Linked DNA regions of Homo sapiens. The protein of the gene in region 1 purifies or fractionates together with the protein of each later gene. This does not show direct contact. Each region holds a gene or a part of one and is shown on either strand. Other genes may lie near its edges. The genes, in order: NRDE2 and VPS50.

Region 1 (3,824 bases):
AACCCTTACTATATGGCAGACACTCTTCTAAGGACTTATGTAAACATTTTTGGCCAAGTGCAGTGACCCACACCTGTAGTCCCAGCACTTTGGGAGGTCAAGACAGGAGGATCGCTTCAGGCCAGGGGTTCAAGACAAGGCTGAGCAACATAGTGAGGCTGCATCTCTACAAAAAATAAGCTGAGTGTGGTGGCATGTGCCTGAAGTCCCAGCTATTCAGGAGGCTGAAGTGGGAGGACTGCTGAAGGATTTTGAGGCTGCAGTGAGCTATATTGCATAACTGCAGTGAGCTATATTGCATCATTGCATCCTGGGTAACAGAGGGAAACCCTACAAATTTTTCTGTAGTTGGGTGCAGTGGCTCACACCTGTAATCCCTGTATTTTTAGTAGAGATGGGGTTTCACCGTGTTAGCCAGTATGGTCTCAATCTCCTGACCTTGTGATCCGCCCACCTTGGCCTCCCAAAGTGCTGAGGCGGGCGGATCGCTTGAGGTCAGGAGTTCAAGAGCAGCCTGGCTAAATTTTGTATTTTTAGTAGAGATGGGGTTTCACCATGTTGGCCAGGCTGGTGTCAAATTCCTGGCCTTAATTGATCCACCCACCTCGGCCTCTCAAAGTGCTGGGATTACAGATGTGAGCCACCACGCCTGGCCGTTAGTTGATTATTTGATAAGGATTTTATAGCAAAAGTGCCTTCATTTAGGGAAACATTGTGTTAAATTATAGCCTAGGTCCTGTATAATTATTAAGATCTCATGCTAAGTGATAAATTGGATATAACCTAAATGTCTAATGATTGGGAAATGGTTAAATAAATTATGGCACATCCATACAATGGAACAGTTTGAAGTCAATACAAATTATATTTTCTAAGATTAATGGTATGAGGAGATGCTTTAAAGTAGGAAGGCAGGCCTGAAACTATGTGATATCAACTATTTTGAAAAAGGATGTATGTGCACACACATATATATACATACTGAAACACATATAGTGTCTGAAAGTAGATAGTAATATAGGCCAGTAACATTTTTCCCCTTCCCTTATCATTTTCATCTAATTTGTTATAAAAATGCAGCTGTTAGTTTAAAGTCAGGAAACAGTAAACATTTTTCAAGAGATTTTATGAATATCTAAAATACTGTATATTTTTTGTGAGACTAATGAGGAATCAATACTATTAAAAGAGGATAAAGGAGAACAAAACTAGCTTTTTAACTTAAAGTTTGTTCCTTAGGGAATGGCAGCCTTGTTTAGAACTACATTAGTGCTATTTTTTTTTTTTTTGAGACCAAGTCTCACTCTGTTGCCCAGGCTGGAGAGCAGTGGCTTGAGCCCGGCTCACTGCAACCTCTGCCTCCTGGGTTCAAGTGATTCTCCTGCCTCAGCCTCCCAAGTAGCTGGGATTACAGTCGTGTGCCACCACGCCCAGCTAATTTTGTATAGTTAGTAGAGACGGGGTTTCACCATGTTAGCCAGACCGATCTCAAACTCCCGACCTCTGGTGATCCACCCGCCTCAGCCTCCCAAAGTGCTGGGATTACAGGCATAAGCCACCACACCCGGCCTACATTAGTGCTATTTTATCTCATCACACCTTTGTTAAGGTTGTTTTTGACTCATAAATGGAATGGCAAGAGACTGTCATGAGATAGTCTGAAAGAATTGGGAGGGAGGCTAGATAAAAGGTTTGAGAGAGAATATTTATGTCTGTGTGAGAAAATAGTCCCCTACAGTGGAATTTGCTGTGTTTGGTCAGTGAGGAGGGCAGAGGCACTTAGAGAGGGGACCTGTTGACCGCAGAGAAGCCACAGAGGTGAGGGAGAGAGCCCGGCCCTGAACCAAGGTGAAGTGGAGCGGAGCTTCCTGGGAGCTGACAGAAGATGAAGGCAGTTCTCCCCTGCCTTTTTCTCCCCACGGCATTTCCGGTTTTATTAGGAAAAAATTTTAATATACAGCAAAAGTTGAAAGATTTTTACAGTGAATGCTCGTATAACTGCCCCCTACATCTACCATTAACTTTGTATCCATTAAGTTTGTATTGTACTTGTTTTGTCATATGTGTCCATCCATCAGCCCATCCTATTTTTTTGATGCATTTCAAAGTAAACTGCAGATCAATAAACAACCCCCTAAATACTTCAGCATGTGTATTATTAACTAGAGGTCAATATTTATTTAGTTTTATTCCTTTAATTGAAAATTTACATGCAATGTAATGCACAAAGCTTCATTCTCACCCGAACCTCTGTTAAAATGTGAAATATTACTCTGACCGCCAGAAGTTTCCTCGTGCTCTTTTCTGGTAAGTCTGTACCCCATTCTCCCAGAGGCAATCACCGTTCTTACTTGTTTCCACCCTCAATTCGTTTTTACCTGTTCTAAAATGCATGTAAGTGGAATTATACAGTGTGTACTCTTTTGTATCTGGCTTCTGGCTTCTTTCACTCAGTGTAATGTTTTTGAGATCATCCGTCCATAAGGCACTTACCAGTAGCTCCTTTTTACTGCTGGTAGTATTCCATTGTATGGCTGTACCTCTGTTTACTTATCCATCTTCTATTGATGGACACGTGGACTCTTTCAGTGTTTGGCTGTTAGGAATAAAGCTGCCGAGAGCATTTGTGCTCATGTCTTTGTGTAGACATGTGCTTTCCTTTTTCTTGGGTAAATATGTAGGAATAGAATTGCTGGGTCATAGGTTAGGTCTGTGTTGAATTTTTTAAGAAACAGCCAGATCTTTTCCCAAAGTGATTATACCAGTTTACATTCCCGCTGACAGCGGATGAGAGTCCTGGTTACTCCACAGGTTACTCACCAACATTTGGTGTTGTCAGCCTTTTAAATATTAACACTGTTCTAGTTGGTGTGTGGGGTACCTCATTGTGGTTTTAATTTGCATGTCCTTGTTGACTAAGGATGTTGAGTTGTTTTTTTTTTTATGTGCTTATTGGCTATTCATGTCTTCTTTTGTGGAATTTCAGTTCAGATCTTTTGCCCGTTTTTAAAATTGAATTGTTTGCTAACATACATACAGAAAAATGTACAATTTTCCTTAGCTTTTGCCTGTGCAAATATTCAGTAGTCATGTGTTTGTTAACTCTGGGGACGCCTACATGTTCCATAAAAGCGTTTTAGAACCCAACCTCTTTTCCTCTAGAGTAGAAAATAACCAAATGTAATTTCATTTGACATACTTTGTTTCAGGATTAAAAAAAGAATCTTAGGCCTATATGTTATCTTCTTAAGTAGGGACACAGGAAAATATTGAGAAAACAGGACTGGTCTAGGAAACAGATGATCCAGGTTCCCAGGCCTCAGTGTCCTTATTTAGGAACAGTTAAGAGAAGGGATGATAATTTTTGCCTTGCCTGTCACATATGGCTGTGATGATCAAATGACATAATGTGTGTGACAGTTCTTTACAAGGCTCCAGGAAAATAGAAATTACTAAGATCTAGAAGACAGGCATGATCTTAAATTCATGAGATGTTAAAGAAGAGTTGAAGTGTTATAGGAAGAAGTCAAGCCAGGCAGAAAGAAAGTTAATTACTAGTCCTTGTGTATCTCCAAATAGAAACAATCTGAAGGTGAGGTGAATTTGGTTATATGCAGTGAACCTGCATAACGAGAGTTTAGGTCTAATGCGCCTTTAGTCATTCAGAGGTAGTACACGTATTCCCTCAGTAACTTTTTTTCTTTTTCTAATATCAGATACAAGAGGAAAGGAGACTCCTGCCTTGGCATTAACCCTAAGAAGCAGTGCATATCTTGGGAAGGGACTTCCACAGAGAAGAAGCATTCACGCAAGCAGGTTGAACG
Region 2 (3,824 bases), on another chromosome or scaffold:
TGCTTATCTTTAAACTACAGAGATGTGTATTTTCTCTTCCCTGTTGTAAAATACCACTAGTCATATCTAAAATTTTTTATTACAAAGTGCTCTGCCTCAACCGCAAGTTTTCCATTACCCCCAGAATATCTAACCTACCCACCCTTCTCTCCCCGTCTCCCTCTCTCAGGCACACTTACCACTCCAAGAAATGAGAAAGCAATACATCACTTTCAGAATTATCTCCTCTACAAAGTCTTCCTAAATCCCTATGCTCCAAAGAACACAGTATTTCTCAGTATAACCCTTGGATCATGTCCATCAACACCACCCAGGGAACTTGTTAAAAGTAAGATTCCTAGGCCCTAAAATAAACCTAATGAATAGGTTTTTCTAGATTTGGGCCAGGAATGTGCATTTTCCCAAAACAATACCTCAGTAAGACATCTTCCAAGACAATACCTCAGCCAAAGTAGTAAAGTTTTAAATTTTAAATATATCTTTCTCTTCCAAACTTTAAGTCCTAAGGAAAGGGAGAGACAAAGTCCTATTTGCCTCTGCAGCCCAGTGGCTAGCAAAGTTCCAGAAACAGAGTAAACAACAAAGAAATGAGTAAATTATTAGGTAGAAGTCATTGGTCAGGCTCCAATCTCCCACAAATTAGCGCATTGTTCCCATGGGAACATGTAATTGACTGCAAAAAAATTTCTAGGAATGCTCGCTGGAAAAAAAAAAAAGGCCTAAGGAGGTTTAATATGCCTTTCAATGAGTGAGGGAGAAAAATAGTATGTTACTAGTCTTGGGCGGTTTGTTCTTCCCTGTCTCGAATTCTCACCAACAGTCATGAGGGAATAGCATCAAAACTGGTAAAGAAGGCAAGGCTGAGTTACCAAACTACACTTCTATATACATTATATATGCACACATGAAAGTAAAACTTCCCAATTTGATTCAAAATCATGACCACCCCTAAAATATATTTTTAAAATGTAATTGCCATGTCTTTTAAACAAACATTTTTCAAAGTACACATGCTCCTCGACTTACAATTGGGTTATGTTCCAATAAACCCATCATATGAGAACATATGGAAACATACAGAAGAAAACAGACACTGAGACTGCCTGAGGGTAGAGGGTAGGAGGAGAGAGAGGATCAGGAAAATAACTATTGGGTACCAGGCTTAATACTTGGGTGACAAAATAATCTGTACAACAAACCCCTGTGACACGAGTTTACCTATAGAACAAACTTGCATAGGTACCCTTGAACTAAAAATAAAAAAAATTTTTAAACCCATTATAAGTGGAAAATACATTTAATAATCTCAATAAAACCATCATAAACTCAAAAATTCATTAAGTGAAACCATAGTAAATCGGGGACCATCTGTATAGATTTGCTTAACTAATCTAACAGAAATCCCTGAAGAAATATATCATATTTAATTTCTCTTTCCCCAGAGCTAGTCCGTAAAGAAACCAATGCCTGAAATGTAAACGTGATATATACCAATATCTAGAAAAAGTAGTCACCACACAACAATTCAATACCAATACACGGCAAATTTCTGCCAAATGTACAAAATAAAAGTAATACAAATTGAAAACCCGTGTACATGTTAGGAGGATGTAGAGTGAAGTGATTATAGCAATGGGCTCTGGAGCAGACCACTTGAGTTTGTATCCTGACTTTCTTGCTGTGGTTTTGAACAACTTATCTATCCTTTCTGTGCATTATATTCTATGATCATTCATAGGCTATTATAAGAAGTAAAACAGGCCGGGCGTGGTGGCTCACGCCTGTAATCCCAGCACTTTGGGAGGCCGAGGCGGGCGGATCACGAGGTCAGGAGATGGAGACTATCCTGGCTAACACAGTGAAACCCCGTCTCTACTAAAAATACAAAAAAAAAAAATTAGCCGGGCGTGGTGGCGGGCGTCTGTAGTCCCAGCTACTTGAGAGGCTGAGGCAGGCGAATGGCATGAACCCGGGAGGCGGAGCTTGCAGTGAGCCGAGATCGCTCCACTGCACTCCAGCCTGGGCGACAGAGTGAGACTGTCTCGAAAAAAAAAAAAAAAAAAAAAAAAAAAAAAAAGAAGTAAAAGAGGTCATGTATGTGAGAAGCCAAAAATACTGTCTCATATATCTCAAGCATTCTGTGATGATTAACCATAATTCTTAATATTTTTATTATGACAGAAATGCTTTCCTTTTATCAAAACAGAAATGAAGAATTACATAAATGTCTCAAAGCACATCTGACATTCAACTGTACTTTAGAATTACAGATTTTTAACACTTTATCAGTTTTATAAACTTCTACTAACAAATGAAGTCATTCTTATTTTATCTTCATCTCTCTAAAGCATGAAGTCATGGTTTTAACTACAGTTCTCTGCCTTTATTAACACTTTGATGCTATCATTAACCACTATTTGATTTTCTTTTGTATTTGATGTTTGTGTTGATAATTCCCCAGTTTAGACATATAGAAAATTCAGCATAAATTAACACTCGCCTCTTCATTTACCCAAATCAGATTAACACTTCAGACTACTTCAGTTATGTCTACATTAATCCTCATTTTCCATTTACGAAACCAGCAACTATGTCTTATCCATCCAAAGAAGCATCTGTGATGATTTGTGTTTCCTTCTCCTTTCGGCAAAACTCAAGAGTGTTTACACCCAGTCCCTAATTTCTCTCCCCCTATTTTCTCCTGAACCCACTCTAATCAGGCTTTCCTCCCCACAACTTCATGAAAACTGCTGTAGTTGGGGCACCAAGGACCTCCACGCTGCTCAATCCAAAAGCACATTTCTCATTCTCACTCTCACCTTACTTGACCAATCTGCAGCATTTAACACAGCTAATCACTCCTTACTCTTTTAAATTCTTTACTTGGCTTCAAGGCAGTCTTCTTGGTTGTTCTCTTCATCCCACATTCATGCAACAAATATTTATTGAGCATCTGCTATATTCCAGGTGCCATTCAGGAAGCTAAAGACTTCTTACCTCACAAGCTGCATGTTCTCATTCTGCTTTCCTAGATCCACCACTTCCCCCTGAGTTTTTAACACTGGATTCTCAAAAGCTCCAACCTTAGATTCTTTGTATATCTACACTCATTCCACTGGTGATCTTAACCAGTTTATATGCAATCTACATGTTTGTAACTCCCAGAGTTTCAGCTATACCCTGGATTCGCCCCATAAATTCAGATTCATCTGGCCAACTGCCTGCTGTATCTCTCCAGTTGAATATTTAAGAGGCTTTCAAATTAACAAGTCCAAAAACCATGTCCCTTCCCTCAATCTGTTCCTCCCTCAGTTTTATCCATCCGAGGAAATGGCAATTACATTCTTCCAATTGCTAGGGCCAAACTATTTTGAGTCATCCTTGATGCTTCTCTTTCCCTCACAGCCCAAACCCAATCTGTCAGGAAATTCTGTCACCTCTACATTTACAGCATATTCACAGTCTGACCTCTTTCAACACTTCCACCACTAGGGTGGAAGGCTTACACCCACCCTCTCACCTGGATTACCACAGTAGCCTCATCATTCACCTCCCCTGGTTTTGCTCTTTTCCGCTCTTCAATCTGTTCTTAAAACATGGGTCCAAATGGTCTGTCTGAAGTGTTATGTCCAATTATATCATTCCTCTATTTGCCATTTCACTCAGAATGAAAGCCATGACCTTGCTATTACCTATAAGGTACTACATGATCTAGCTTCCTGCCTTCAGTCATCTAACCTCATCCTAACCTCATCTCCCACTACTCTTCTCCTCACTCACTTCACCCACACAGGCCACTTGCAATTTCTCAAACAAGCTCCTGC

Evidence for each region.
Region 2: the proteins of NRDE2 (region 1) and VPS50 purify together in Homo sapiens (co-immunoprecipitation; one large-scale study listed by IntAct). This does not show direct contact.

The regions. Positions count from the first base shown.
Region 1 is NC_000014.9:90,304,275-90,308,098, reverse strand, and holds part of NRDE2 (nuclear exosome regulator NRDE2), read left to right. Parts: intron 1-3,716; coding exon 3,717-3,824. UniProt on the Homo sapiens protein: Protein of the nuclear speckles that regulates RNA degradation and export from the nucleus through its interaction with MTREX an essential factor directing various RNAs to exosomal degradation.
Region 2 is NC_000007.14:93,235,191-93,239,014, reverse strand, and holds part of VPS50 (syndetin), read right to left. Parts: intron 1-3,824.